Linked DNA regions of Homo sapiens: region 2 is linked to region 1. Evidence: fine-mapped expression QTL. A gene starts in region 1. The other region holds a variant in brackets. All regions are shown on one strand. Distances are between the middles of the regions.

The links.
Region 2: its variant is fine-mapped to the expression of EGF in whole blood (INTERVAL, PIP 0.94).

What each region holds. Positions count from the first base shown.
Region 1 is chr4:109,911,545-109,914,464 of GRCh38, reverse strand. It overlaps EGF (epidermal growth factor), which reads right to left and starts at 1,582. Exons shown (of 24, transcript NM_001963.6): 1 at 1,003-1,582. The coding sequence starts at 1,129.
Region 2 is chr4:109,991,882-109,994,801 of GRCh38, reverse strand. It overlaps EGF (epidermal growth factor), which reads right to left. Exons shown (of 24, transcript NM_001963.6): 19 at 1,433-1,555; 20 at 1-69. It also overlaps the pseudogene RNU6-35P. Among named protein-coding and RNA genes, the nearest start is that of EGF, 80 kb to the right of the region's middle. RefSeq lists an enhancer at 15-304. The variant T/A (reference allele first, on the strand shown) is at 1,531.

The DNA.
Region 1 (2,920 bases):
TAGCTTTGGCAGTTTGGCTCCATTCTGCTCTCTTTATTCAAACTATTGCCTATTGTGTACTGTCTTCCATAGGTGTCTCTTCTGGAAACTGTACTGTGTTTTCCCCCTCAATCTACCTCTTTTTAAAAGCCAGACGCCATCTCAAAAGGGCAAGCTGATAAAAATGGAATGTCGGGGCAGCTATAACCTCTCATCAACAAAGGCGGCTGCCGTGTCTAAGCAGCAGGTTGGAGGCTCACCCAAGGATTAAATAAATGAATTAACAGTTAGAGAGAGAATGTTTTTCAGGCAATATCCTTTGGCAGGATTGTAATTCGCATTCAGTCAAGCTCCCATTTCCCCTTGGCAAAAAATTCATTTAATATGAGAGGACAGTGTGGCTTATTTACCCATTATCATATTTGGCAGTTCTTAAAGTTGCAATGCACCTGTTACTAAAACTCCGGAGTTGTGTCAGAGCCTCAGAAACAGTAAGAGTGGGGAGAAAGTGAAGGAGGTTGAAATTGAAATTTAGGTTAATTTTCACAACTACCTTTGTTCACAGTTCCCTTTCCATTTTTCACTAATTTTTAGAACTTCTGAATTCTTACAAGTTATCAGAAGGAAGGATTTTTTTCTTTGTGGCTTAAGAGTTTCAAACAGACAAACAAAAAATCAACCATCTGTTTCCCTAATTTCCAAGCAATTAGCCAGGTGTTAATTACTCCTCTTGTCAGAGTAAAAGCTGAAGCTTCCATGAAATGTTCTGCTAGTTTAAAATGAGGCATATTCATTCACTTATACACAGAAGTACAGTTTGAGAGTTATGAAGTTTTATAGTTGGTAGCAGATTAGCTCTAATGGCCAGTAAGAAAATAAACATGCATCAGAAAACAAAAATTAAGCAACTATACATACCCAAAGACAAACTTTGTTAAATGCCCAAGTATACCAGATTGAACCAACAGGGATGTGGGGGCAGTTTCCCGGAGACCTGGAGCACCTTTTCATTGGAGTACTTACCCACACAAGTAGAATTCCCATTTCCTGCGAGAGTACCTTCAGGACAGCTCCAGTGCTGCGGTGCTGAGAGACTAACAAAACTAAATTTTGAAACTACTGGCAACAGAATGATAAGAGTGAGCAGCATAATCTTGATGAGTTTGAACTTTCAAAAGAAAACAGCTTGATTTTGCTGGAGCATGGCCCGGGCAAGGTGAGTATGATTGACCCCAGATGCGGCTGCCTGAGCGGAGGCCTCAGCCCTGGGGCATCTTTTACTCTCCTGTTGTGCTGTTGTCCTCCAAGCTCTTTCTTCAACTGAGAGACCTTCTGAATGCAGCCTGCCAAGGGAAGCCACAGGAAAGATTTCTTTATCTATGTTTCTTTGGAAGCCAGTAAGAAATACCTGACACCCTTATGACAAATTTCACAGAGTTTAACAGCCCTGCTCTGGCTGACTTCACTGTGACAGAGCAAGGCAAAGGCTTAGAGAGGAAAAAGAAAGGAAGAACTGATGGAAAGTTCCAGCTACAACCCTTGGATTGGGGCTGAAAGAAGAAATATGGAGATACGATTCCTCTCCCAACAGTTTCTCTTTTTGAAAAGTGGAATGACTCAGCTTTGCTTTTTAAAGCTCTTCAGGCTCCACCTCCTTTCCTTTAGTGACACTTGAGTGAGCCTCTGTTTGCAAATGCGAATGTGGGCAATTCCTCCACACAGGAAAGCAGGGATGACTGCCAAAGAGGAGATAACTCGCTACTCACCATAAATATCCTGGGCAGAACTGGGAGAGAGGAGTTGGGGGCTGTGGAGGTGCTCATGGTGAATGGCGGGAACTGCTAAATATTGGCTATGTTTTAATGTCTGGAAGGATGGAGACAAAATTAAACCATGCAGTATAAATCAATAATAAGCAGCACTGTTGATAGTTTGGATTGATAATAATTGATCATTCACATGAGCAATAGTAAAGATAGTTCACCTTCAGCCCATTATTTGAACGAAATGTCAATACCAGTGCACATTCCAGGAGCTTTATCTTATTTTTCTCTTTCTCCTGTATAGTTTATAGCGGAATTTGAAAGATTATTCTTTCCAAATCAAAGGGAAATCCCTGAGGCCAAATGAAGAGATACAGTATGGACAGACACCTTTTCTTTCAGCATGAGCATGATAAAACATCACGAGGGGCCAGGAGTGCAGAGAAAGGAGTGGATTGTTATTATAGGGACATTGGAAAAAATAAGCTAACAGTGCAAAGCTGGGAAGCACTGGAAATCCAGCACAGAGGAATGCTTTTCCTTCTAAGATAATTTAGGCTTTTTTTTTTTCACATCTCTGTGATAGAAAATAAGAACTGGACGTATCTGTTAGCTGTCTCCTCAACCACTTTCTACTTGGAGCAACAGTGGTTATTTCTTCAGGAGTACAACTAGGGCCCAAAAATACCCAGAAGGCAAACAACTTATAGCAGATTTGATGCACGATGGAAATTTCTGTCAGTTTACTCCATCCTGGAAAATGGACTTTCATTTAAGTTACCCTGAGGTAGTGTTCCAAGTGCTGGTCAAAAATGTACGTAAAAGCAATAGTCACAAAAACAACTGTCACACTAGTGAACACCCCATTACAGAGGAGAACAGACTAACTCTAAGCCTTTTACTCATACTTAATTATGTCCTGATTATTCTCCAAAGACTGGATCACTTTCCTGAAACAGCTTAAGTCAGGATTTCTCCTATTTCAGCCAGCCTCTGCCAGGCAGCTCTGAACCCTTACAGGAGAAACAGACCCTGGGGAAGGGGGAAAGAGAAGTCCTTTAGGTGGTTATGCGGAATATTCCATTGCTTTCTGGACTGAGTCAGACTCAAGACTCATAATGAGCATCCTACAAATAACCTGCACTGACTCTTCGAGTTACTAACTTTATTAATAAGCT
Region 2 (2,920 bases), 80 kb before region 1:
ATTCAGAGTCACTATTTCTTACGGAATAGTGGTGGTCATCTTCCCTGAGGTGAGGGGGTGGAGTAGAGTCTAAAAGAACCCAAGACATTACTTTTACTTTCTGAATGGATTAGTGTCTTTCAAGTATCAATATGAGGAACTAGTTTCTGTGAATAGTTTGTGACATAAATCTTTTAGTGACAGAAGAACTACTAGAAGGGACAATAGTTTCACTTTCCTAGCTAGACCTTAGTCATTCACTATGAAACCAGCCGTTCTTCCTTTGGGCTCAGTATTATCTGATACATAAAGCATATTGGAGGCAGGTAAAAGAACACCCAGTCCTAAGTCGCCATGTGAATTCAGAGTCACTGATCTCATAAAAACAAACCTGTCACACACAAACATACACTAACCATGTGAAGTGACAGTTAGCTTCAAGGTCTCACTGAACAACTGGTAACTCTATGGTTTAAAACCTACCCATCAATGTGCAGTCCGTTACCTCCAATATCCTGGAGTCTCGAAAATTTTTTCTCACAGTGCTTTCTTCTAAAAACTAACCTTCAGAGGAGCCCTCAAGGACAAGACTGTAGCAACTCTGGCAGGAAGAAAATGTTCCCGTAACAGAGGGCATGCCAAAATATAATAGTAAAGTCTCTTTTATTGAATGGTTCACTGCTCCTTAAAAGGTAAACATGTGCAGCTGACTACATAAATATAAGCAGTTTTTCAGTACCTTTAAGAAGAGCAAATTATTTGAGAAAAATAATATGCTAAAAAAAAAAAAACAGAGACCAAGTAAGCACAGAATTTTTCTTCTTAGGATGTTTTCTGCTTATAGGGCTGACAGGCAAAAAGTGGGCAGTGATGGGAAAGACCCCCATCCTGGTCTCCAGGGTCTAGGTGAAGCCAGCTCCCCTTCTGGGGTGCTGATGGTGAGATGTTACTGCTGTTATGGGAAGAAGATTCAGGAAGCAGGAGTCAACCATTATGAATATTGAGAAAAGAAAGAGAAGAGAGCTGGAGTTCTAATTCAGAACAAGAAATACTGCCTTTTTAAAGTAATATTTTAAAATCCTTGAAAGTGATTTAAAATGCTGAGTCCAGACATTCTCACCGACCTGCCTAGCCCTGCAAAACTTATCCAGCAGCCCCACAAATTGACATTACAAATAGTGAGATTAGTTGCACAGTTGAAGAGAGATACCCATGTTCCCATCTTTATTGGATTGTGAGTAATAAAAAAGGATTTATTCCAGATGCTATTAAATTAAGAAAACTTGGACCATTTCAAATTCTCAAGCCCAGCATCGTCCTAATCAGGAAAGCCAGCTCTGCAGCCTGCCTGAACTGAATGATTTTTAGAATCTCTAATGCAAATAGAGATTAGGGTATAGAATATCCCCGAGCCAAGTCCCTCCCCTTCACTGTAGACCACCCACCAACCTACCAGGGCAAATCAGTCCTGGTTCAGACAGGCGTCCAGCACACATGCAGGTATAGCCTCCCTCTGTATTTGTGCAGCTGGCATTCTCTCCACAGCTGTGC[T/A]CCCCCAGTTGGCACTCATCAATATCTGTCAGAAAAGACAGAGTACGGGAGAGAAAAGTGGGGTACAGAAAAAGAGGGTTTTATAGTTGGACAGCCTTTGGAAGAGGAGCTTCATCAGCTTCTGTCATGCTATATGTTCTCAGAGACCTATATATTTTTTTAATATATATTTTTTATTATACTTAAAGTTCTAGGGTTCACATGCACAAGGTGCAGGTTTGTTACATATGTATACATGTGCCATGTTGGTGTGCTGCACCCATTAACTCGTCATTTATTTTAGGTGTATCTCCTAATGCTATCCCTCCCCCCTCCCCCCACCCCACAACAGGCCCCTGTGTGTGATGTTCCCCACCCTGTGTCCAAGTGTTCTCATTGTTCAATTCCCACCTATGAGTAAGAACATGCAGTGTTTGGTTTTTTGTCCTTGTGATAGTTTGCTGAGAATGATGGCTTCCAGCTTCATCCATGTCCCTACAAAGGACATGAACTCATCATTTTTTATGGTTGCATAGTATTCCATGGTGTATATGTGCCACATTTTCTTAATCCAGTCTATCATTGTTGGACATTTGGGTTGGTTCCAAGTCTTTGCTATTGTGAATAGTGCTGCAATAAACATACGTGTGCATGTGTCTTTATAGAAGCATGATTTATATTCCTTTGGGTATATACCCAGTAATGGGATGGCTGGGTCAAATGGTATTTCTAGTTCTAGATCCCTGAAGGAATCACCACACTATCTTCCACAGGGGTTGAACTAGTTTACAGTCCCACCAACAGTGTAAAAGTGTTCCTATTTGTCCATATCCTCTCCAGCACCTGTTGTTTCCTGACTTTAAAAATATGGAACGCTTCACGAATTTGCATGTCCTCCTTGCGCAGGGGCCATGCTAATCTTCTCTGTATCATTCCAATTTTAGTATATGTGCTGCCAAAGCGAGCACAGCCCTATACATTTTTAGGTTTAAGGGGACTTTCATGAATGTTGGAGAGATGAACTAGGTCCTACAACGCATGCCCATGCACGTGTTGTTTTCCTTTTTTGTTTCCGTTCTTTCTCTCTCTGTCTTTTTTTTTTTTTTTTTTTTTTTTTTTTTTAAAGAATCTTGCTTGGTTGCTAAGGATGAGGTACAGTGGTGTGATCATGGCTCATTGTAGCCTTGACCTCCTAGGGTCAAGCAATTCTTCCAGCTCAACCCACCAAGTAGCTTGGACCACAGGCTTGCATCACTATGATTGGTTAGTTCTTGTTTGCTTGTTTGTTTTTAATTTTTTTTTTGTGGAGAACAGTGTTTCGCTATGTTGCCCAGGCTGTCTCAAACTCCTGGCCTCAAGTGATCCTCCTGCCTTGGCCTCCCAGAGTGTTGGGATTACAGGCATGAGCCAC